Homo sapiens: one gene and its partners. The protein of the gene in region 4 purifies or fractionates together with the protein of the main gene of each other region. This does not show direct contact. Each region holds a gene or a part of one and is shown on either strand. Other genes may lie near its edges.

Region 1 (3,500 bases), on a different chromosome or scaffold from region 4:
CACTTTCTCCACATTTTTATTCTCAGACCTTTAACGGGGCTAAGGCGATGGCACGAGTCCTCCTTGATGATCTGTTCTTCTTCCATGATGTTTGACATTGGCACATTGAGGCTAACAGTGTCTTCGTCAGAAGGCTAAAAAGATACAGTGCACTGTTTAACTCAAGAGAAGTGTTATCAATGTAGATAAGGAGAATGCTATGTAATAAAACAACATCCTGTGATTCTCACAAATATCATATTGAATATAAGTTGCCAGATACAAAGGTCAATTCCACTTATGTAAGTTCAAAAAATGCAAAACTAATCCATGGTATTTAAAATTAGGAAGAGGTTATTCTTGGGGTCGGGGTGGGGCTTTCTGGGGTGCTGGTAAAGTTCTGTTTCTTGAACTGGAAGCTGGTTATACGGGTGTGTTCACATTGTGAAAATTCATGGAGCTAACACTTATGGGCTTCTCTGTGTTTTCTTCTCTCTGTTTTAAGCTGAAATCTTGTCAGGTACTGATACACAGTTTGGATGTATGTCCCCTCCAAATCTCATGTTGAAATGTAATCCCCAATGCTGGAGGTGGGGCCTGGTGGAAAGTGTTTGGGTTTTGGGGGTGGATACCTCAAGAAGGGTCTATGCAGTTCTTGCTATGCGTTCATGTGAGATCTGGTTGTTTGAAAGTACATGGCATCAGCCAGGCGTGGTGGCTCACACCTGTAATCCCAGCACTTTGGGAGGCTGAGGCAGGTGGATCACAAGATCAAGAGATCGAGACCATCCTGGCCAACATGGTGAAACCCCATCTCTACTAAAAATACAAAAATTAGCTGGGCGTGGTGGCACACACCTATAGTCCTAGCTATAAGGGAGGCTGAGGCAGGAGAATCACTTGAACCCGGGAGGCAGAGGTTGCAGTGAGCCAAGATCGCGCCACTGCACTCCAGCCTGGCAAGAGAACAAGACTCCGTCTTAAAAAAACAAAAAAAAGTGCATGGCACCTCCTCCGTTGCTCTCCCCCAACCTCGTTGCTTTCTTGCTCTGGCTGTCACCATGTGACAGGAGGCACTCCCTTCACCTTCAACCCTGAGGCCCTTGCCAGTAGCAGTTGCTGGTCACATGCTTTGTGTACAGCCTGCAGAACTGTAAGCCAACTAAACCTCTTTTCTTTATAAATTATCGACCCTCGGGCATTTCTTTATAGCAACACAAGAATGAACTAATACGGGTGCCTGTTTTATTTCTCTGTTTTAGGCTGAGGAAGCTGCATCACATATATAAAAATGCTAAACAACTGTAGTAGTTAAAAAGAACTGCTCTGTGTGATTTTTGGAAGAAAGCTTCGGCTTTAATAATTGGATTAGTTCTCTCTGAGGGCTTCCTTTCCCACAGTAGCTGATGACGTTTATTCAGAAAACCTATGATTCTGAAATATGGAGCCTGGTTTATTTTCCTATGTCTCCATTTTACTGTTGCTACTTAGGAAATAGCTTTCCAAATCTCAAAAATCAGGAACCTCCACAAAACACATTTCAGGAGATTGTGGCTTGCTCCTAAGTTCTTGAGGTATGGTTTTCAGAGTCTGTCCTTGTTTACTTTTGGACATATGCACAGATTGTTTAGAAACTGGCAGAAATTAGGCATGCATTTCATTCATTCAACAAATATTCATAGAGCTCCACACTTTCCTGTTTATCTTGATAAAAAGATGTTTTTAATCTCTCAGTGACAAATGCTAAATCAATCAATGGCAGCAGCCAAAGAAAAAGAATGAGGTGTGATCCCTGAACCCCACAATGTCATCTAAATGGGAAGTAAGATCACCTGATCATAGATGGTAAAATCTTTGCCAAACCAAGTGAAAATAGGAAGCTATGTAAGATAATTTGGAACACTTATCACTCTAAAAAATAAATTTCTTGGAGGTGTACTTAGGAAAGGAGGCTGTAATATAAGACAAGGAAAGGCCAAAGGCAAGATGTGTGCATTTCATTCTGTTGAATATAATCTTTTCTGTATTCCCTTCTCTTTCTACCCACCTCTCATCTTAAAAATTTAGCAAAATTCCAAAGATATGCATCTAATTAAAAGGCACAGAATAAATCCTTGGGCTCCTTTTAGAATGATATTAGCATCCTACTTATGCTTAAGTGACAACAAAAGGATAATGAAGTTCTTTATGTAATGTTTTATTAATGAGTTTAATTAGCCTTAGAAGAGAGATAAAGCAGAGTCTGTTTAATTTAACAGAAAATATACTTAGGGTGAGTAATTTCTGAAACAATGGTCCATTTGCGAGGACTTAGGAGTTGAAGAGGATGAATTAAAATGCAACTAAAGCAATGTGTTTAGTATCCCCTCTCTCCCACTGAAGCACGGTAAACTATTCATGTGCCTTCCTATGGGTTATTTTCTTTTATTGACACTGGCCTTCTCTGCCTACTAACTCTTCTTCTTTTCAAAATGCTCTATATTAGAAGGATTTTTAAAGATAAAGAATCCCACTTTTTAATATACTGCTATATAGAGTATTTTGTGAAAAATAAATTCAAATACCTTAGCTACCTATTAAAATTCAACGACTTGAGGAGAATTGGAGAAAGGTTTTTTTCCTGGAGTCATACATAGAAAAAAATGTGAGTTTCTTTGATGGGGTGACTGGCCTATTAACTGCAATTTCACAGTATTATAATGTTAACTTAGTAACTACAGAAAGTAACTTCCCTCAAAAAAAGAAGAGCACCTGATACTTTTCCTACCACTCCTTTCTAGATCCCTGAGGCCAAGAAGCTCCATTTAATGATACATTAGTGTTAGATTTTGGGGACTCTAATAGACTACATGTGAGATAATAAATCAGTTATCAAAGCATGATTTATAACCACTATAGGAAGTTCTAATGTGTGAGGCCTGTTAGCTTGCAAGTAACCAAACTTGTATCCAATTAACTGAACAGAACAGAACAGAACACAATCTAAGAGTCTGAGGAAAACAAACATTGTTATAAAAACTATAGCTACTCATAAATGCATTTCCTGTGGATCAACTATTAAAATAAAATGTACAGTTGATTCCTTAACATTTACGCATATGTATAACAATGTTTTTCTAAATTACTCTATTACTGAAAAATAAGCGTATGTATAAAAGTGCTTCACGGGCACTTGCGTACTACTTAGCCATTTTGTAATATTTATTGAGCACTCAATAATATTTTAGATAATGTGTAGGAGAGGAGAAGATACAGACTCCACTCTTGAGGCATTTACAAAATATTAAAGATATTAAAGATGCAGAATAAGTAACAACAGCTAATATTTATATAACACTTCGAGGATTTCAAATCACATGAATATACAAATCACTTTTACGAATATCACATGAATATACAAATGAATCGATGCCCTTTAACAGAAAGGAGTTCAATGAACACTGGTAGATATGTCTAGAAGTACAGAAGGAAAAGAATCTGATCACTAACTTTACCTCGGTGGCAGATAATCGCTTATCTCC
Region 2 (3,500 bases), on a different chromosome or scaffold from region 4:
CAGTGCAGTCTGAAGGAGACTAAGCAAACTGAAAGGAGATCTTCAGGAACTCTGGAGAACCAGCAAAGTCCAGGGAGAATTAACCACAGGTACATAGAAAATTAAGCAAAGGGGGGAAAAAGACAATTATAAACTAGGGAAAACAAACAATTGCAGGAAAGGAAAGCTAGATAATATGCTACATGTTCACCTGTGAGCAGTGATTACATAGCCATAATAATGTAAACATTTGAGTAGTGATCAATCAAAATTAGAACTATTCTGAGAGATAAAGGATAGGAAAGTGGCATGTATGTGGTAGACGCAGGGGAATGAAAGAAGGCGAAATTCTCATCTTCTACAGAGGGGGAAGTCACAAGAAATGCCTAAAGCTAAGAAATGAAGAAACTGCTATACCTCAAGTTATTTAGAGATATGGAAATAAATACCAAAAGAATTAGATAAAATAATTACCTCTAGGGAGTAGAAAGCAAAAAGGAGGGCTGATTTTTTTCTTAAGCTTTGCAAAACTTACTTTATGCTTTGCACATATGTAACTTTGCTTAAAAAACATTACATAAGAAAAAGTCATGTCATGGTACATTTTATATGTATTTTAATCATTTTTTTTTAAAAAGCAGATGGGATAAAGCTAAAAATGCAGTGTAGAAATGAAAATATCAGGAGACTGGAAAATAAGTGCACAGAAAAGGAAGACTGAAAATCACCTCCAACATTTAAAGGGGGCACTGAGAAAGGAGAAGGAAGAGTGTAAGAAGGGTGTATCATGTGCTGTAATAAGTGCCTTAAACTCACAGGAGAAATTCTATTGCCACAGGAAATCAGTTGGCAATTAAGAAATAAAGTTTTTCAACTCCATAATAATTTGCTTTCAAATTGCAAGTTTTAAAAAACAAAAAGAAAAAAACAAAACCTCTTACCTGCTTTTCCAAAAAGTGTGCAACTCTGGTCCTCTGTTCTTTTGGAATGGTAGGAAGGACCTTATCAGCCATGCTAAAGTCCCTCCGCATGACAGCTGTCTGGTATTCCAGGACTGAAACCAGCAGGGAATAGCTAATGATGTTCAATTCTTTATCCCCCAGATAAAGCCTGTTGTCTTTAGGAATGTAGCCTAGGAGATACATCGTCCTATAAAAGAAACAGAAACCAAGTTAGAAATTCAAATCTGCAATTACACAAACACACACCCCGCCAATCTCCCTCTTGCTCAAAACCTTCCCATTTGATTGACACAATTCTGGTTAACAATAGGCAACCTACTAAAACTATAACACTGAAAAATCAGCCTATCATTGCTACAAGCCAGCAACAGATTTTTCTAAACACACTTTAAAATTTAGGACAAATGCAAAATGATACTCAGGTACCTGTCCAAGTGGGCAATGGTGACTATTTCTCCTCCAACATAATAATTTAATCTGTTCACAGAACTTGTGTAAATGAAGCAATCGCCTACCCAAAGCCCTGTTTTCACAATTTCCTGAATCTCACCAAGAACCTGCAGAAAGAAAAATAAAGACAATTACTTTATCCAACATCAGAAATCTCTCAATAAAAAGCTGAATATATCTGAGGGTGATATGGCAGAATAAGGAATGCAAAGTAAAATCCTTCCTATTTCTAGAAAAAAAAAATTTTCCTTGGAATTTTTTTTTTTTTTTGAGATGAAGTCTCTGTTGCCCAGGCTGTAGTACAGTGGCGTAACCTCTGCTCACTGCCAACTTCTACCTCCCGGATTCAAGTGATTCTCCTGCCTCAGCCTCCCAAGTATCTGGGATTACAGGCGCCCGCCACCATGCCTGGCTAATTCTTATGTTTTTCGTAGAGACAGGGTTTCACCATGCTGGCCAGGCTGGTCTTAGACTCCTGACCTCAAGTGATCTGCCCACCTCGGCCTCCCAAAGTGCTGGGATTATAGGTGTGAGCCACTGCACCCCGCTGGAATTTCTTTCTTCATTTAAGAACAGATTCCTACTCAATATAACCCTTAGGCTCAAAACAGAAAAAAAAACAAAACAAAACACAGAACAGATTCCTAGATTAGTATTTGTAATGTGAAATCTCATTGTTGGGTCAAAATCATGATATAAAAGAATACTGATCTAAACTTAGACCCTTCATAACATGACAATGAAATATTAAGTATTTCACAAAATCTAGGACATCTGCACAATAAATGATTTACCATTTGGGAGCTTATTTAAATCACTGACTAAATAGTCTTAGGACCAAAACAACTATAATTTCTTTACTGAAAGATATCAAAGTAAGTCTAAAGAATTCTTAAAATCAAAGTACAAATTTCTTTTAAACATATTTATTTTAAATTTTGATCTATGAGTTACGATTTTAATTTTTCACATTTCACCAGAAATCCTTAAATGCTGTCTCCCTACACCTAATTTATAACGAAATGTTAAAATCAGTAAAGTCTGTTGTAAGAATATAAATCATTTAAAAACAAAGCTGAAAGCGAAAGTTGTGCTGATGCAATTACCTCAAAGGCATCTTCAATGCCATCTTCAGTAACTCCCTCATGTGTTTCCTGTGCAGCCAAGACTTTTTCTGACAGATACTTAAGGATAAAAAATGATTCCTCAGTAGCAATACAGACTAGCTCTCCAGAGTCAGACCAGAAAATCTGCAACACAACAAAATCATAGACAACTGATTTGGATTTCTGAGTGGATATGACAAACTGCACATACTTGGTTTCTTACAACATTTACCTTCTTATATCAAGATGATAAGTATTCACTTAACAATTTTATGTGGCATTATTTGGGAGGGTGGCCAGCTATTATGTGGCTATGCTATTTAGCCTAGCAATGGAAAGACCAAAGGGAGACAGGAAAGGAGAGCTGTCAGTAAACACTGAATGTGCTACACAGAGGACCAGTAGCCTATTCCCTCTTGCTCTAGAACAGTGTTTATCACCTTTTTTATTTTTTTCATTTTCACCCACCCTCCCTAGAAGTCTTTCTGGACATTTTTCTAATCACCTCCCCCAATGAAATTTTAATACCACAGATATACATATATAATGCATATACATATGTATAGCTATGCTTTATTCATAAAGAGTAAGCCCCCAAGTCAATGTTTACACCCACTGAGGATGCGTGCTCTAGAACCAGACCCCAGAAAAGCTGGTTTGTTTCCAAAGATAATCTCCTGACAGTGAAAACTGTCAAAGCAGCGGGCAGTTCTAAAGGTAAACACTTTGTCACTGGAGATGGTCACCTCAAGTTCAAGCAGCTATCATCAAAATGTATGAAAAGGTTTTCTGAACTATGTGGAAGAAGGCATTTCCAAGTCAAGAATTCTCTGACTTCTTGTTCTCAAAGCATGCTTTTTTCCTGTCAAAATGGCACTGCCACTTACCTCCAATTGCTCAGAAAATCAGGATTGTTGTATCCTAATGAGGCCGTAGACAATGTGTATTTCAAAAGTATAAGAAGTTATTTAAATTCTAAGTGCTGTTTTATATTTTAAATGGC
Region 3 (3,500 bases), on a different chromosome or scaffold from region 4:
TCAATTTTAACAAATGTACCACTTTCGTGGGGGATATAATATATCTTGATAATAATATAACTTGAGAAATCCTTCATTTTCTGATAATCTAACAAATCACAACTCTGAACATAATTTTTAATACAAAGGCTTAGGTTCATCAAGATTCTCTTTTAAAGAACTATCTAACTGCCCAAAATGATTCACATACACAGTGAACATACAAAATACTAAAAGGTCAAGTCCAAAATTTTGATTCTCTAGAGAAACGTATAAAGCAGTTTAACTGGGAACATACTAAGACAGAACACAAAGTAACGGAAATGCCACTTTAGCTACCAAAAGAACAGGAAGAGCAAATACTAAGACTTTACTTTGAAAGTCTAAGGCTACTTCTTCCTGGTAGGGCTCTAACCTCTTGCCAAGAAGCCTGTAAGTTTATTTTTCTTACTTCTTTATTTTAAGTGAGAAACCATGAAATTAACCATTTCAGAGCTGAAGAAAACAAAGGAGAAACAACTATGTCTACGGTGAACTTTCACATTAACTATTCTAAATGATTATCATGGCCAAATAAACAAATATTTTTAAATGAAAGCAATTCTGATTATTAAAATAGATTATTTTTAAACAATCAGTGTTTTTTAAACATCAAAGTAAATGTTTCATATAAATGTCTCACAAAGCGTATGAAAGAAAAATGTCAATCACATCTTATGAAGTGTTTCACTTCTCACCTGCCATAGTAACTTTAAATTCAAAGACACCTTTAAAAATTATCCAGATATATAAAATATTCAGTAAACACAAAAGGTATATAGATGCCCAAAGTCTTATACTATTTCTTAACATAGCAAATAAATCCATCAGGGAACAATAATTACAAAAGTATTTCAGAATTCATTTGCTAATTATGAATAAGCGGCTACAAAAAATAGTTGAATATTAAGTTCTCTTTAGAGTTCCTCTTTTAAAACACATACTGTTCAGAAACTTAACTAGACATATCTGGGAGGAAAAAGGATACATTTGTGAATTTTATTATATACCTCAGGCATTCTGTTCTGCCATGGCGACAGAAAAAATAAAAATAAATAAAATGCCTCAGGCATTTGACATGTGTGATCAAATCTTACTCATTACTACCACTTTGATAACTCTATTTCTATTTTCTGTATTGCAAAACTACTAAAAGACTAGTAAGGATAATGAAAAATGAAAATATAAATCATATGACTAATTCTTACAGGAAAGAATAGGAAGCCCAGACATTAATTACAAAATAACTGTCTTCTTAAAACAAGATCCTTTTGGAAAAAAAAAAAGTCCCAGTTACCTTACTTTTAAATAAAAGATATCCTGGGACAGATCTTCTACTTTATTTCTTCCTTACATGCATCTTCTTAGAAATCACATCCTAGTTACCAGATCCTTCTTGACAATACGCAAACTAAGCACCCATAAGATATTATTAACTGAGACATTAAAAACCATTTGTGCTTTAAAAGGGAATTAATTCAGGTACAGTCTGGTATGTTATACGCATTTTTAATGTAGTTACACAAACCACTAGCCCAAATACAAATTCTACATATGCAAAATATTCAAATCCTACTTTTTAAAAACTTATTTCCAATTTCTAGATCCAGTTCACAACATACAAATAACCATGCTGTATCGACCAGAGATATGTTGATAATGGATGCTTAGTAAGAACTTGATCTTGATTTTGTTTTAGAAAAGATAAGGCAGTGGTTGAAATGAAATGTCCCTGTAAATTAACTGGGGAAAATATGAATTAAAAAACAGAGACATACAGGATATGGTGACTCACACCTATAATCCCAGCACTTTAGGAGGCTCAGCTGGTAGAGAGGATCCTTGAGCCCAGGAGTTTGAGACCTGCCCGAGCAACACAAGGAGACCCTGTCTGTATAAAAATTAAAAATTAGCTGTGCGTGGTAGCAGATGCCTGTGGTCCCAGGTACTCAGAAAGATTGTCTGAACCCGGGAAGTCAAGGCTGCAGTGAGATGTGATTCCACCACTGCACTCCAGCCTGGGCAACAGAGTAAGACCCACCTCATTTTAAAAAAAAAAAAAAAAAAGGAGACATTACAGCCATTAGTATAAATATTACATTTCAGTGAAATATGTCAAAATATAAATGTCCAACGATAGTAAATAAGAATAAAGAAAATTAAGAATTCATATCAAAAAATAGGATAAGGGCCAGGCATGCTGGCTCACACCTGTAATCCCAGCACTCTGGGAGGCTGAGGCAAGAGGATTACTTGAGCCCAGGAGTTCAAGACCAGCCTGGGCCACATAGGGAGACCCCCATCTCTCCAAAAATAAAAAGTTTCTTTAATTAACCAGGCGTGGTGGCACATGCCTATAGTCCCAGCTACTTGGGAGACTGATGTGGGAGGATTTCTTGAGCCTGAGGAGGATAAGGCTGCAGTGAGCCATGATCCTGCCACTGCACACCAGAGACAGAGCAAGACCCTGTATCCAAAAAAAGGGGTGGGGTTAAGACTAAAGATTGTAAGATCAGATAAAAATGATTTTTATATTAAGAAGTTATAAATTAAAAATTGTGGGCCAGGCACAGTGGCTCACACGTCTGTAATCCCAGCCCTTTGGGAGGCCGAGGCGGGCGAATCATGTGGTCAAGAGATCCAGACCATCCTGGCCAACATGGTGAAACCCCATCTCTACTAAAAATACAAAAATTAGCTGGGTGTGGTGGCATGCGCCTGTAGTCACAGCTACTCAAGAGGCTGAGGCAGAATCTCTTGAACCTGGGAGGCAGAGGTTGCAGTGAGCCAAGATCGCACCACTGCACTCCAGCCTGGCGACAGAGCGAGACTCCGTCTCAAAAAAAAAAAAAATTTGTTTTTTCTATCCTGCAATAATTATGGTTCTTTTAAGCATTCTGTACTGCTAAATGGAATTAGAAGCTACTTTCTATGTATATGAATTGCCCCCACCTCCAGCTGTGAGACAGGATTAAATGAGATGATGAGAAAGTGCCTGGAAAACTGAAGTTCTTCAAATATAAGGGCTGCTATTCCTCTACCTTGATTATGGCTACTAAAGGCCTAAGATTAAACGGAAATCGTGTTTATTTTTACAAACATATTTCAAGTTTGACAACTCTTTCACACTAGGGATGCTAGTCAACACTATTATCCACTAACACCTACAGTATAAGCAAAGCAAAAAAATCTTTCTTCAGTAAGTATATAATGTAGTATGAATTAAGCCATAATTCATGAATTATTAATAATCACTTCCTAATGTGGAAAGATCTTGGCGAGAAACTGACAGAAACCACCTCCACACTCTAAGGGCTTATACGAAAAACAACAGTCCTAAGCATATTTTTTGTTAAATGCTGCCATTTTAAAATGAAATCATTTTCATTAGATTCATATAAATAAGCATCAGTTGCTAGGGGCATTAAAAGGTGCACATAAACTAAGCTTTCACTATAAAGAAAAATTCCTAAAAGACAAAA
Region 4 (3,500 bases):
CATTATCTAAAGAAATCTAAGTTTTTGAAAGTTTTTAAGATCTATAGAAATGACCGGATCTATAGAAACGGCCGGGCGCTGTGGCTCACTCCTGTAATCCCAGCACTTTGGGAGACTGAGGCGGGTGGCTCAGCTGAGGTCAGGAGTTCGAGACCAGCCTGGCCAACATGGTGAAACCCCGTCTCCACTAAAAATATAAAAATTAGCCGGGCATGGTGGCACATGCCTGTGATCCCAGCTACTCAGGAGGCTGAGACATTAGAATCGCTTGAACCTGGGAGGGGGAGATTGCAGTGAGCTGAGATCATGCCACTGCACTCCAGCGTGGGCAACAGGGTGAGACTACATCTCAAAAAAAAAAAAAGATCTATACAAACATGTATTTATACATTTTTACTATTTGTATAATCGTTAAAAATTAACAATTTTAACTAATATTAACTAATCACCTCCGAATGAAGCTAGTTAAAAAGCTGAAACAGGCCAGGCGCGGTGGCTCACGCCTGTAATCCCAACACTCTGGGAGGCCGAGTCGGGCAGATCACGAGGTCAGGAGAGCAAGACCATCCTGGCTAACACAGTGAAACCCCATCTCTACTAAATAAGAAAAATTAGCTGGGCGTGGTGGCGGGAGCCTGTAGTCCCAGCTACTTGGGAGGCTGAGGCAGGAGAATGGCGTGAACCCAGGAGGCGGAGCTTGCAGTGAGCTGAGATGGCAACACTGCACTCCAGCCTGGGTGACAGAGCGAGACTCCATCTCAAACAAACAAACAAACAAAAAGCTGAAACAGTCATTACAATCTAATTTAGGTGCGAAATTTAACACTGCATTGTCTTCTCCATACAATGCTATAAGCCCCAAATAAGCTTTAAAAAAAAGTCAATGAAGAGATTCTGGTAACATATTTCACTTCCCTCTACCACATACTGCCTGGTTAACCCAAGCAAATTGTCGTTAATCTTGTTGAAGCCCTCCCTAACCAAAAGATAAAGAAAAAGTTTAAGCTAGTAGTTCTCTAATTCCAGTTTGCACATAAATCAAAAGGGAAGCTTGCCAACATAGTGAAACCCCGTGTCTACTAAAAATACAAAAATTGGCTGGGCATGGTGGCACGTGCCTGTAGTCCCAGCTACTCGGGAAGCTGAGGCAGGAGAATTGCTTGAACCTGGGAGGCAGAAGGTGTGGTGAGCCAAGATCGCGCTACTGCACTCCAGCCTGGGCAACAGAACGAGACTCCATCTCAAAAAAAAAAAAAAAAAAAAAAAGCCAACTTCAAGATTCCAACCAAATCACTAATATATTGCTCTTCTTGCTTTTCGATGAAAATTCCACATTAAACATGACAAAAAAAAACACAGTAACAACAATAATAATGAATGTACACTATGTGCTAGCCAGTGTGATCTGTGTTTTACATGTATTATTATCTAATTCAATCCTCATAAGAACCACACCAGGTAGGTAATATTGTTACTTCCATTTTATAGATGAGAAAACTGAAGCCTAGAGAAATGAAATAATTTGACCAAGTTAATGAGTGACAAAACCAGGATTGCCTCAGGTCTGCCTATCCTCTTACCCAGGAGCTGGACAAGAAAGCACTGTGCTTAAACGCAACTCTGGAACCCCAGGGCTGTCAGAGAGAGGATTAAGCCTGACGACCAAGTAGTTAGGCAAGTAATACCCTCCCATCTCCTTCCAACCCCAATTCCCACCCCTCACCCAACAAGCTATCCTGACTCCCCACACCCATCACTCCCACACCAAGGTCGCCCACCTCTGTGATGTGTCACACATCCTAGCAGAACATCAGAAGTCTGTCTCTATGTGTGTGTGTGTATATATATGTGTATACATATATATACACACACACACACAGACTTCTGATGTTCTATATGTATATGTATATATGTTCTATATGTATATGTGTGTGTATACATACACACACATATATTGTGTATATGTCTATATACATATATACACACACATATGTATGTATGTCTATATATGTATATGTATATATGTCTATATACATATATACACAATATATGTGTGTATATATGTGTGTATATACATACACACACACAACACACATAAGTACTCTTGTATATACATATATACACATATATACACAATACATATTGCGTATACATATATATACACACTATATATGTGTGTATACATATATACACATATATACACACTATATATGTGTGTATACATATATACACACTATATATGTGTGTATACATATATACACACTATATATGTGTGTATACATATATACACATATATACACACTATATATGGTGTGTATATATATGTGTATATATATATATATATACACACACAACACACATAAGTACTCTTTCCACATTAGTATCTACTACCTGCTTAGTACTAGCAGAGACCCAAATTCCAGCACCACCAAATAAGCTTGAGCAAATTTAACATCTCTGCCCCTCAGTTTCCTAATCTGTAAAATGAAGGTCATAACACCAGCACCACTGAGGTGACACAGTGATTGAGCTAATGTATACAAAAATACTCACTTGGCATAATATCTGACATGGTAGTAAAAGCTCAATAAACAATAGCTGCTATTGGCCAGGCACAGTGGCTCATGCCTGTAATCTCAGCAGTTTGGGAGGCGAAGGCGGGCAGATCACCTGAAGTCAGAAGTTCGAGACCAGCCTGGCCAACATGGTGAAACCCCACCTCTACTACAAATACAAAAATTAGCCAGGCATGGTCGTGAGCACCTGTAATCCCGGCTACTCAGGAGGCTGAGGCAGGGGAATCGCTTGAACCCGAGAGGCGGAAGTTGCAGTGAGCCAAGATTGCACCACTGCACTCCAGCCTGGGTGACAGAGCGAGACTCCGTCTCAAAAAAAAAGAAAAAACAATAGCTGCTATTAAAATTATACTTTGCTAACCTCTTCTCTTACAACACCAACATATCAGTCCTAGTCCCATTTGTTTTTTGCTTGCTTGTTGTTTTTTTTTTTTGAGACAGAATCTGGCTATGTTGCCTAGGCTGGCCTCAAACACCTGGGCTCAAGCATTCCTCCTGCCTCAGCCGCCTGAGTAGCTAGGACTACAGGTAAGCATCACCGTGTCCAATTCTAGTTCCCATTTATTTTCTCTCAGTTTTCTTTGCTAAAAGTGTGATAAATGATGGAACATACTTATATTTATCAAAGCAGGTTGGTAACAGCGCCATAACCCAATAGTCTGGGAGTCTTCGACAGATAGGTCAGAAATATTCCAGAGCAAGTAAGTCATGCAGTAGCCTTTAAATTGCACAATTTTGACAACTGCCTATTTCCCAACTTTAGGGTCAGCCCTGTTGATTACATCCTAGTATGAAGAGTCTATAATTAACTTAATTCAAAACAACAATAAAATGTCAGTACAGGGGCTTGGTCTTAATTTAATCACTGTATCCCTAGAACTTAGAATAGTGCCTGGTCCGTGGTAGACACTACAGTACGTTTTA
Region 5 (3,500 bases), on a different chromosome or scaffold from region 4:
GGCTCCAGAGAGCACACACTTCTTTCGGACACGGGGCACCACTGCCACCTCTTTTATACTTGCTAGCACACAGCCCCAGCTGTTCTCAATTTAGGAGAGCAGTCTTTTAGTCCTGCTACAGAAACCAGCCACCTGATGAGGTTTTCAAACCTCGTAATTAGTCCTCTCCCTGGATACACTGCTCAACTTAAGCACAATCCACTGCATTTTAAAGGACCTCCCCCCTCCCCTGCCTCCCCGTTTCAGGGTAACTTCAGGGAAAACTGAGGAGGACAAACTCAAAGTGATGACAGCTAAGCCTTTATTTAATGAAAGAAAAAAAACACAGCGAAAATGGCAGTCAATATGTACAGGCAATGTCTGTTTACAATTATGGGTGGCAAATAGATAAACCACAAGTGTTTACTGTGCACCTAAATGCCCCAGTGCTGAAGGCTATGTAGGGCAAATTAAAAGGAGTGAAAAACACCTGACCTGAACATTCAGCCAAAGAGCTTGCAGTCTAACCAAAGAGACAGGACTAAAATGATGAAAGACTACTGGAGAAGACTGAATGGCATATTGTGAAAGGAAGGAGAGGGATGAGCTGATCACTAGGTAAAGTGAGAGGTTTAGCTGTACTGTTTCCCTGCTCCAGGGACAAGATGTGTCCACACACAGGCTCTGTTTCTGAGAAAGCAAAAGCATGTGGAAAGCTGGCCTGGTAGAGAAATGGGGGATAAGGGAGCATGAGACTAGCTAAAAGGTACTACTGAGAATTATAAACATCTCACCTTTCCCTTGTCCTTCTGCAGAGCCCCCAGCTATCAATACATTACAGCAGGATGAGAAAGACCCAGGCCTTTGACATCCCAGGCTTTGACAGGCCCAGGCTTGACAGTGTCTTGGCACAATGTTGTGGGAAGAATAAGCACAATGAAGAGGTGCCTCAGGAAGGTATTTTCAACAACAAACCTTCAACACCATGAACTGCTACTTCTAACGGAGGTCCGAAGCACTAACACAGCCATTTCCTGTCTCTCTTTAGCAGCCTTGCCTAATCCACTTACAGCATCTTGCCAAATCATCATCCAAATTCCCTTCAACTTTACTCTTCCATATGTGCTCCTAGTCTTATGTTCATGTGGGAAAGAAGCTTGTGATTTTGAAACTCCATTTCACAGTGGATGTACAGATGGTCTTTATAAGGTAGCTACTCGGTTCTAGAACACAGAATGTGGAACAGAAGAAAATCCAATTAGTAACCTTTTTTCTTTTTTTTTTCCAAGAGGACACACTCAGCCACCCACCTCATGGGACTGCTATGAGAATGACTGAAATAATTAATTGTGAAGAGCTTTGTGCCCCTGGGAGTAAGAACACTATGTGAGTACAATGCCCATTTATCGTTATTAGTGTTAAAATTAATATTTTCCTTGGGATTTCATTAAGATTAAATATACATAGCACATTCATCATGTGTGAACAAATCTTGGGACGAAATGTTTGTCATCAAGATAATGATCACAACATATTCATTCCTATTTTGAAAGGAAAATATCTCGGGGTCCCAAAATCACTCAGCTAAAGGAAAAAGTCAAGCTGGGAACTGCTTAGGGCAAACCTGCCTCCCATTCTATTCAAAGTCACACATCTGCTCATGGAGATAAATGCATATCTGATTGCCTTCTTTGGAGAGGCTAATCAGAAACCCAAAAGAATGCAACCATTTATCTCTTATCTACCTATGACCTGGAAGGCCTCTCCCCACTTTGAGTTGTCCCACCTTTCCGGACCGAACCAATGTTCATCTTACATATGTTGATTGATGTCTCATATCCCCCTAAAATGTATGAAACCAAACTGTGCTCTGACCACCTTGGGCACATGTCTTCAAGACCTCCCGAGGCTGTGTCATGGGTGTGCAACCTCAACCTTGGCAAAATAAACTTTCTAAATTAACTGAGACCTGTCTCAGATTTTCAGGGTTCACATTTTGGTAACCACAGAGGGATTCTGAGTGGAGGTGCCCCTGACCTTTAACAAATCTCCTATCAGTGCTTGGTTCAACCTTGGGCTATCTTTATGGCTTAAACCAATAGGACAATTTGCTGAGGCCTGGAAGCACCCATTCCAGAGAATCCCTGATCTCCCCAATTCTGGTTGAGATCTAAAGTTTATTTTGCTGTACAACCTTTTTTTTTTTTTTTTTTTTTTTGGAGTTTTAGTTGCTTCCAACACAAGGCAGGCAAGTTTTTCCTGCTTCCATGATGATGGAAGGTAGGTAACTCCTTTACGGAGTTTCCCTTCCAACAGGGAAGATGAGGTTTTTTTTTTTTTTTCCTGCTCCTAGTGACACAGGAGATAGAAGTTATTTAGGCAGATAGTGAGGGTAAGAGTTCTTGGCAAGGCTTCCCTTCTAACAGAAAGCAGCCCGAGAAACTTCTTTTGTCTAATGAAGAGCAGCCTGAAAAATTGAGCTGCAGACATAGATAAGCAAGCTGGAAGCTTGCACAGGTTACTGCCAGCAGCTGTGCCAATACAAAATGGCTACCTGGGGGCCAGGTATGTTCAACGTGTAGGCTCCATCTTCCTTTTTGTCACCATGTGTAAAGAAACAGGCAACATGGTGTGGGCCAGGAAGATAATCCATTTGCATAATAAAACATTAGGGTGGGGGTGGCCAGCTTTTTGCACCCTTATGCAAATGGCACACCTGGTCCAACCAATCTTTCATGCCCTATGTAAATCAAACACCACCTCCTCAAGCTCATCTATAAAACCTGCATTTCACTGAGGAAGCAGAAACCCATTTGGGACCCCTCTCTCTGCAGGAGAAAGTTCTTCTTTTCCTTTTGCCTATTAATCCTCTGCTTTTAACCTCACTCCTTGTGTGTCCATGTCCTTGATTTCCTCTGCATGAGACAATGAACCTCAGGTATCACCCCAGACAACAAGGCTGCTTCACTAGGATAGAAAGCAGTCTTCAGCCTGAGACCCAACAACCCCTAGATAACTAAATTGGGGTTTGTCTTGGCTAAAGTTAAAATCAACAACCAGCTGGTCTTAATGTCTTTACCATTAGAGTGCTCAGTAATCATATAAGTTGTGCAATCATTTTTTTTTTGCTTAACTGTTTTTTTTTATTGTTTCTCTTTTTCTTGTTGTTTCAGTCTTTTTCCCATTGGGTTTGACCAACTTCTTCCGACTTGATCAAATCCGAAGGAAAGTTCCAAATTATGGGGAACAAGGCCACTGAAGTGGCTAAATTCTCATAGACACACACAAAAAAGGTAGTATGGTAAGGTGGTATAATGGGGGGGAGAAAAACAGCCAGAAAAAGGAAAAAAAAAGAAAAAAAAGGAAAGAATTTTAATTTTGACTACTTAAGGGGCTTTATTTACATAACAAAGCCACCTTTTTGCTAGCCAGGTCAAACTGAAAGCAAAGGCAGTCACCTCACACTGCATTTCAATAGCTAGGGTTCTGCCTTTTTTTTCCCACCATGACAGCCTGAGTTT
Region 6 (3,500 bases), on a different chromosome or scaffold from region 4:
CAGAGTTCACATATCGTCACATTCCAACGTCCAGGATACAATAAAAAATTACCTGATATTCAAAGAAAAGAACAAGGAAATATGGTCAGTTATCAAGGTAGGGGGCAAAAAAAACAAGCAACAGATACCGATGCCAAGATAAAGCAGATGTTCGACTTACCAAAGACTTTCAAGCAACTAGATAACTATGCTCCATGAGGTAAAGAAAAACACAAATGAAGTAAAAAGACAGGAAATAAAAACAGAGAAATGGAAATTATAAAAAGTAACTAAAAATGTTAGAACTGAAAAATACCACAAGTTCACTGGATGATCTCATTGGCAAAAAGGACATGACAAAGAAAAGGTTAATGAACCTGAAGACAGCTCAACAGAAATTAATCCAATCTAAAGAACATAAAGAGAGAAAGAAGATTGAAAAAAAATAAACAGAACCTCAGGGACCTGTGGAACAGTTTCAAAATATCTAAATAAGTATACTGGAATCCCAGAAAAAGTGAATAAATAAGATTGGGGCAGAAAAAAATAACTGAGTAATGTCCCAACTTTCAAAATTTGATTAAATATATAAATTTAGAGAATTCAAGCTCAACACACACAAAATAAAATACATTAAAACCATGTCTAGACACATCATAAACAAACTGCTGAAAATCAAAGGCTAAACACACACACACACACACACACACACACACACACACACACACACACACACACAAACACATGCCTTGAAAGCAGCTGGGAAAAAAGATGCAATGAGGAATGGTTGCCTGGGGGATGTGGGTAAAGGTGGTGGGGAGGAGTGGGAAGGACTGCACACCTGTTACCTTGGGCAAGTTACTTAACCTGTTCATCTGTTTTCTCATTTGCAAAACGAGGAAAATAACAGCAAATGCCTTATAAGTCAGGTGGATTAAAAGAGATAATCTGTGTAAGGCATTTAGCATAGTACCTAGTGTAGAGTAAAATTTCAACAAATTTTGCTATAATTATTTTTTAAAGTTGTAAGTACAAAGATTAATAAAAGATAAATGTAAACATTTATAAATATCAGAAGAGATTATGAAAATAAAACAGCAAAGAAAGTGCATCATGTTGATAAACACAACAAATATAACCAAATACACATAATACTTGTACATTACCAGTCATATGAATAAGTACCAATGGGCTTAACTCATTATTAAAAGAAAAAGATTTGGATAAGTTCTTTACATAAAAGATACATCTAAGAAAATGTGAATCAGAAAGACTAAAAGTAAAGGGGTAGAAAAAGATATGCAAGGCAAATGAAAGCAATAAGAATATAAGGGTTGTAGATCTCCTCCTTCCGCGTCTCTAATTTCTGGGCCAGATGAGTGTTTTGCTCCACTTCATCATCTAAACTAAAGCTTACATGGGTTTCAGTTTATCCTTGCAAGTTCTAGTTCATGTTTGCACGTTCTTTCTGGTTTGCCCTTGTTCTCTGCTACTTTATATCCATCTTTCCTTCTCAACTGCCTGACCTGCCATCAGGAGATATAATTTGCCAGTAATTACAACTTTAATTCCAAACCAAAGCACAAGAACATACGCACACACACCTCTGCTTGAAGACTGTGAAAAGTTAGTAAACTTAGGTAGGTTGCAGGAGCACACAAAAGCAACAGCCTCACATATACTAGTTAGCCATGTAGCTCCACAATAACATAAGGTCAACTACCTATAATGAATTCTCTATTAGTTCTCTCATTATTATACCCAGTTGTGCTTCTCTGATCAAACTATGACTAATATACCAAAACTCTACATCTTAGTTTTGGTGTTAGCTCTACATGTATAAAATCTCCATCCATCCATTAGCAGTTTCCCTACTCACCCATGGTTCTCTAGCTCTCCCTATAGTAGATTCACCAGAAAGGGCACATGTGCACAGTATTCTCTGAGTTTTGGGACATTCAAACTGTTTTTCTTTAACCTTGATTGATTCTTGAAGGACAAATGGTTGGATATAATCTCTTTGGTTTATGGTTTACACTCATTAAGATTCCTGAAATGTCACTCTACTGTTGCCTTGCTTTGTACGTTATTTGTGAAAAGCATGGCCAGTCTAACTTACATGTCTTTGTAAGTTACGTTCTTTGTTTTTCAATGTTTAAAGTATAATAATTTTACTAGGATACTTCTTGGACTGTTCTGGGTCAATCACCCCCGGTACCTGGTAGGCCCTTTCAATATGTAGATTCAAGGTTTCTTTTCTTTCCAGAAAGTTTTCTTGGATTCTAATTTTAGATATTTGTTCCAGTCAGCTGTTCTGATTTTCTTGAAGGTCTCCAAGTAGTCTTATGTTGGACCTCCTCTGCCTGTTTTCCAATTCAATCATTTTTTTCTCTAAACCTTTTAACTTTTTTTTTTTTTTTAGCTCATTTTCATTCTCTGGGGTTTCCCTCCCTGCTTTTAATGCCCCTTAATAAATTTTTATACAAATTTATTGTCCCTTGGTCAAATTTAGTTTTCATTTGTAATACAATTTTGAATTTGTCTTCTCTTTTCTGGATTCAATTAACACTCATTTCCCTGTTTCTTTTTTGTCCATTTCTTATTTTGAAATTTCTGATTCAAGCTGTTTTTTTTTCATTATTCCTAAATGCTGACTAAGGATATTTAATCCAGTATGAAGCAAGGTGTTACAGTTTTGTCAATTTTGTATCAGCATTTTAACTCTGAATTGCATTTTCAGCTTCTTTTGCAGTAGTTTTTATATAGATGTGATCTGCTTTTTTCTATTCCTGTTCATTTTGCGAATAGGGTTCCTAGTTTGAGAGTGCCCTCTTCTGACAGTTCCCTTTTTCTGGGCAGTTTCATTGATGAATAGCATTGGTGTAAGGAGGGGTTGATATATCTTCTTTCTCTTTTGTTTCCATTAGAACCTTACCTTTTCCTTCATATACGCTTTTTTCCCTTCAGTGGCCTATCTCCAAGGGAAACCACATCTTTCTTATATAGCTGATTATCTCCCAGGAGCAATGCTTCTCTGAGGCTTCAATTCCTTGTCCTGCACTCTTGTAAGAGCTGGTGATATGGTCTAGTATGTCCAAACCTGTGTTCAGTATTTTATACTTTGTATTGGAGCTTCTCTTTCTGGGGGTAAGGAGACTATTCTGTTTGTGCGTTGTCTAAATACTCTGAACCACTCTGCTTGTTCTCATGGAGTCTTTTAAGTCTCCCCTACACTTGTTCTTGGCATCCACAGACTTACAGCAATAGAACCTTTATGGGAATTTAGTTTATTTCTGAACTTCCATCTAATGTCAAGGCCATGATATTCTCTGTCTCCTAGTATTGTGAAATGCAGGGCCAAGTGAGATTTTACTTGTTCTCCCCTTTTTTATTGTTTGGAACAGAGGGGAGGGACAGTGGGGAGATTCAAGATCAGGTAGCCACCATCCTCCTCCAAACCCAGAAGTAGCACAGATAGATTCTTTTTAATCATTAGGTTTATTGACATATAATTACTTACA
Region 7 (3,500 bases), on a different chromosome or scaffold from region 4:
CAGGCAAGATAGTGGGTGCCTATAATCCCAGCTACTCGGGAGGCTGAGGCAGGAGAATCGCTTGAACCTGAGAGGTGAAGGTTGCAATGAGCCAAGATTGTGCCACTGCACTCCAGCCTGGGCAACAGAGCGAGACTCTGTCTCAAAATGAATGAATGAATGAATGAATGAATGAATGATGAGCAAGTTTCTGATGTAGGGGTGGTTTGGACAGGACCCGTTCTCCCTGGGGACCAGTAGGAAGGAGAAGGGCGTGGAGATAGTAGCAGCGTGGGGTGACAGTGGAGGCGATTCCCCGGCAGGCTCTATCTGGGCATTCCAGGACAGTGGGAAGTGGGCCGCGGCTTTGTGTTTGAGGAAAGCCTGAGGGGAATAGAAGGGGCTGCAGTGCCTGGTGGGAGATGTGGTAGGGAGTCAGGTGGAGTGGGTGTGGGGGCCAGCTGCCCAGGCAGAGAGGAGAGGGCACTTGTATTTACTTGTTCCCGGTTTCCCTCCATTGTGACTATCCTGAGGCAAGTGAGTATTTCTCCATCGTCTGACACAGGGCCATACCTGCCACACCATCAACTCAAGAAAGCCTTGTAGATGCTGCCCACTGGGACCAAACAAGTGGCTGGGGAAGGCCGGGCAGCTTCCCCTCTCCCATGGTAAACGGGGGCTGGAAAAGGGACAGCTGTCTTGGCCAACTCCTGGAGGAGGCCTTGGTATTTTCTTTTTCTCCCCAAGAGGGTGCACAGGAAGCGAGGAGGAGAAATGGCTTGGAGCCCTGGGGCTTCAGCCAGAAACCGCTGCCTCAGGAGGGTTTCCTCATCCTGGTGTGGCAGATCCCAGCCCACCCAACCCAAGCAGGGGGCTGGAGAGAGTTGTGTGTGTGCACAGCCGGGTTGAGACCACCTCAGTTTTTCTTTTTCTTTTTTTTTTTTTTTTGAGATGAAGTTTCACTCTTGTCGCCCAGGCTGGTGTGCAATGGCGCGATCTCAGCTCACTGCCACCTCCGCCTCCCAGATTCAAGTGATTCTCCTGCCTCAGCCTCCCAAGTAGCTGGGATTACAGGCGCTTGCCACCACGCCAGGCTAATTTTTGTATTTTTAGCAGAGACAGGGTTTCACCATGTTGGCCAGGCTGGTCTCGAACTCCTGACCTCAGCTGATCCACCCACCTTGGCCTCCCAAAGTGCTGGGATTACAGGCATGGGACACCGTGCCCAGCCAGTTTTTCTTAAATCATCCTCTCAGTGTGCTACGTGTGTCCTGGACTGTCTTCTCAACTGGACTGTAAACTCTTCAAGGTCAAAGCTGATTTTGTTTTCCTGTTCTCAGCATCTGTCATAGGCAGGTGTGCTCATCTTTTGTCAAATGAATAAATAACCAAAAAAGACATGCAATGAACTAGTTCCCACGCCCGTGTCCCTGCCGCAACTATGAGGGAAGACACGTGGGGCCTGTGCTACCCAGTTGCCTGAGCCCAGCGCCTCTGGACACCTGGGAGGACATGTGGGGTGCATAGTGTGGGGGGCCCTGGCCTTGGGCAGTCCCTGGGTTGCTATGGCTCCAGGCCTTACCTCTTACTGTCCTTCTCGCAGGCCTTCCTCCACCTTGGGTGCCTCCTGACGCCTGCCCCGGAAGTCTTCATCTGAAAAGGAGAGGGAAGCTGCCTCATCCTCTACCCTGCAGGGCCTCGCTCAGGCACGGCCCCTAGACTGGGCAAGAGAGCTGACCCGACTCTCTCTGCCCCCTTCATTTGGGACCCATGCAGATCCCCCCAGGTAGACGATGCATGGGTCCAGGGAGAGAGGCAGCAGGACACTCAGGTGCTGGCCAGGGTCCACCACTGAGCTCTGAGACCTTGGACAAGTTCTCCCCTCGTCTTTGGGCCTCAAATTTCCTCATCTATAAAATGGGATGGAAAAGCTGGACTATCTAGATGACCTCTGAGGCCCTTCCAGTCCTTGTTTCTGGATGCCTCCTGACCCTCGAATGTGGCATGAGGATCAGGGTTCAGCTGCGGGCCCAGGAGGGTCTGAGGCAGAGTCTTCTGGCCCACGTGGCCTTTGGAAGGGACTGGGTGAAAGTTGAGAAGCCTCTGGGCCCACAGACTGAAGCTGCCCAGTGCTTGGTTCTCAGGCCGAGGGTCCCCCATGGGGGCAGGCCTGTCTGCCACCTCACACCCAAAAGAATATTCCCCAGAAACAGTACCTGGCACTTCATGCTACAGGTACACATCTAGGTGGAAGTAGGGCTAGGGCCCCTTTTCAGGGGTTGCAGAAAGGGGGAAGCAATGTCGACCAAGTCAGGGGGATCCATATCTTTGGGTCACCTGCCCACCAACCCTCAGTGTGTTCCTCCAGGGGACAGGGCGGGTGCTCCCATGAAACACCCAGGAACTCCGCTGGGAGATCACCGATCATAGAGAAGTTGGAGCTTACGACTCCCCTCCAGCCTCACCACACGCGTGGCCCTCCACATCATCCAGGAGGTTGGCTGTTGACGCGGCAGCCCCCAGCCTGCCAGGCCATTCAGGAAAACCGTCCCAGGGATGAGGGGACACTGCCCTAGTCCTCCCAGTCCCACTGACTCTCTGCCCCACCCCTCAAAGCTCTGGAGGTACCTGACACACCCACCTGACCCCCCACACCCTTAGTACTGTCCCCCAGGCTCATTTTCCTGAGGTCAGTGGTATGGCCAGGCCCTGACACTCTCGCCCAGCTTACATCTCTGGGGATGGAGAAACAGCTTCCTCCCTGTTTCCCTCTGGCTGCTGAGCCTCTGCTATCCTAGGCCCTGTTTGAGAAGCATGAATAGGAGTTCTGATAAAAAGGTGGAAAGCCGTATTTCTACTCGAGGAAGGGAGGGCCAACATGCTTGGAGTGAGGAGGACTCGTGCACCAGTTCAACTAGAGAAATGAAGGGAAGGTTTGATATTGATGGAAGAACCACTTTTTCTCCCAAGAAGTACATAACCTCAGACCAAAAAAAAAGTTAATAGGACAACTTCTGGGCCTACAGAAGGGAGACAGGAGCTGCTGCCCTGCTCCCTAGGCCTGGTCCCTGGTTGGCAACGAGAGACGGGCAGTGGACTGGTGGCCAAGCTCATGGAGGAGAGGGGAGGAGGAAGGGAAGGCCACAGAGCCGGGTTCCACTCCCAGGGGAGGGCACAGCTGCAGGGAGTCCAACAGGGGTCTTGCTCCATGGCCCTTGGCTTCCACCACCCCCACCAGTGCCAGGCTGGAAAGGATACGACTGATGCTTCAACAAGTGTTTCCTCTTTGACTTCCTCATTTTGGTCTTCTCTGAGAAGGCTCGGGCAAGTTCAAACAGTTTCCTCCGGGTGGCTGGGGGCAGAGAGACCTGTGAGTCATTCTCTCAGCAGCCAGCACACCAGATGGCCTCCTCCCAGGTGTGGGAAAGGCCAGGGGAGGACCAAGGCCCCCCGGAGAGGGAGCAGGGGGCAGGCAAGGGTGGGAGCTGAGGAGGGAGAGATGACAGGAATCGCAGACCCCT

Evidence for each region.
Region 1: the proteins of MYO6 (region 4) and LRCH1 purify together in Homo sapiens (affinity purification with mass spectrometry; one large-scale study listed by BioGRID and IntAct). This does not show direct contact.
Region 2: the proteins of MYO6 (region 4) and COPB2 purify together in Homo sapiens (affinity purification with mass spectrometry, with the first as the bait; one study listed by BioGRID). This does not show direct contact.
Region 3: the proteins of MYO6 (region 4) and PICALM purify together in Homo sapiens (affinity purification with mass spectrometry; 2 studies listed by BioGRID and IntAct, with this or other methods). This does not show direct contact.
Region 5: the proteins of MYO6 (region 4) and SGMS2 purify together in Homo sapiens (co-immunoprecipitation; one large-scale study listed by IntAct). This does not show direct contact.
Region 6: the proteins of MYO6 (region 4) and NHLRC2 fractionate together in Homo sapiens (co-fractionation; one large-scale study listed by BioGRID). This does not show direct contact.
Region 7: the proteins of MYO6 (region 4) and CUEDC1 purify together in Homo sapiens (co-immunoprecipitation; 3 studies listed by BioGRID and IntAct, with this or other methods). This does not show direct contact.

What each region holds. Positions count from the first base shown.
Region 1 is NC_000013.11:46,689,170-46,692,669, reverse strand, and holds part of LRCH1 (leucine-rich repeat and calponin homology domain-containing protein 1), read right to left. Parts: coding exon 3,474-3,500; intron 135-3,473; coding exon 29-134; intron 1-28. UniProt on the Homo sapiens protein: Acts as a negative regulator of GTPase CDC42 by sequestering CDC42-guanine exchange factor DOCK8. Probably by preventing CDC42 activation, negatively regulates CD4(+) T-cell migration.
Region 2 is NC_000003.12:139,365,648-139,369,147, forward strand, and holds part of COPB2 (coatomer subunit beta'), read right to left. Parts: intron 2,642-3,500; coding exon 2,498-2,641; intron 1,499-2,497; coding exon 1,368-1,498; intron 1,129-1,367; coding exon 921-1,128; intron 1-920. UniProt on the Homo sapiens protein: The coatomer is a cytosolic protein complex that binds to dilysine motifs and reversibly associates with Golgi non-clathrin-coated vesicles, which further mediate biosynthetic protein transport from the ER, via the Golgi up to the trans Golgi network.
Region 3 is NC_000011.10:86,062,585-86,066,084, forward strand, and holds part of PICALM (phosphatidylinositol-binding clathrin assembly protein), read right to left. Parts: intron 1,293-3,500; exon of another isoform or gene 1-1,292. UniProt on the Homo sapiens protein: Cytoplasmic adapter protein that plays a critical role in clathrin-mediated endocytosis which is important in processes such as internalization of cell receptors, synaptic transmission or removal of apoptotic cells.
Region 4 is NC_000006.12:75,755,739-75,759,238, reverse strand, and holds part of MYO6 (unconventional myosin-VI), read right to left. Parts: intron 1-3,500. UniProt on the Homo sapiens protein: Myosins are actin-based motor molecules with ATPase activity. Unconventional myosins serve in intracellular movements. Myosin 6 is a reverse-direction motor protein that moves towards the minus-end of actin filaments.
Region 5 is NC_000004.12:107,890,932-107,894,431, reverse strand, and holds part of SGMS2 (phosphatidylcholine:ceramide cholinephosphotransferase 2), read right to left. Parts: intron 1,366-3,500; exon of another isoform or gene 774-1,365; intron 1-773. UniProt on the Homo sapiens protein: Sphingomyelin synthase that primarily contributes to sphingomyelin synthesis and homeostasis at the plasma membrane.
Region 6 is NC_000010.11:113,871,661-113,875,160, reverse strand, and holds part of NHLRC2 (NHL repeat-containing protein 2), read right to left. Parts: intron 1-3,500. UniProt on the Homo sapiens protein: Required for normal embryonic development.
Region 7 is NC_000017.11:57,864,913-57,868,412, forward strand, and holds part of CUEDC1 (CUE domain-containing protein 1), read right to left. Parts: intron 3,332-3,500; coding exon 3,238-3,331; intron 2,781-3,237; exon of another isoform or gene 2,711-2,780; intron 2,504-2,710; coding exon 2,445-2,503; exon of another isoform or gene 2,426-2,444; intron 1,633-2,425; coding exon 1,565-1,632; 3' UTR 1,562-1,564; intron 1-1,561.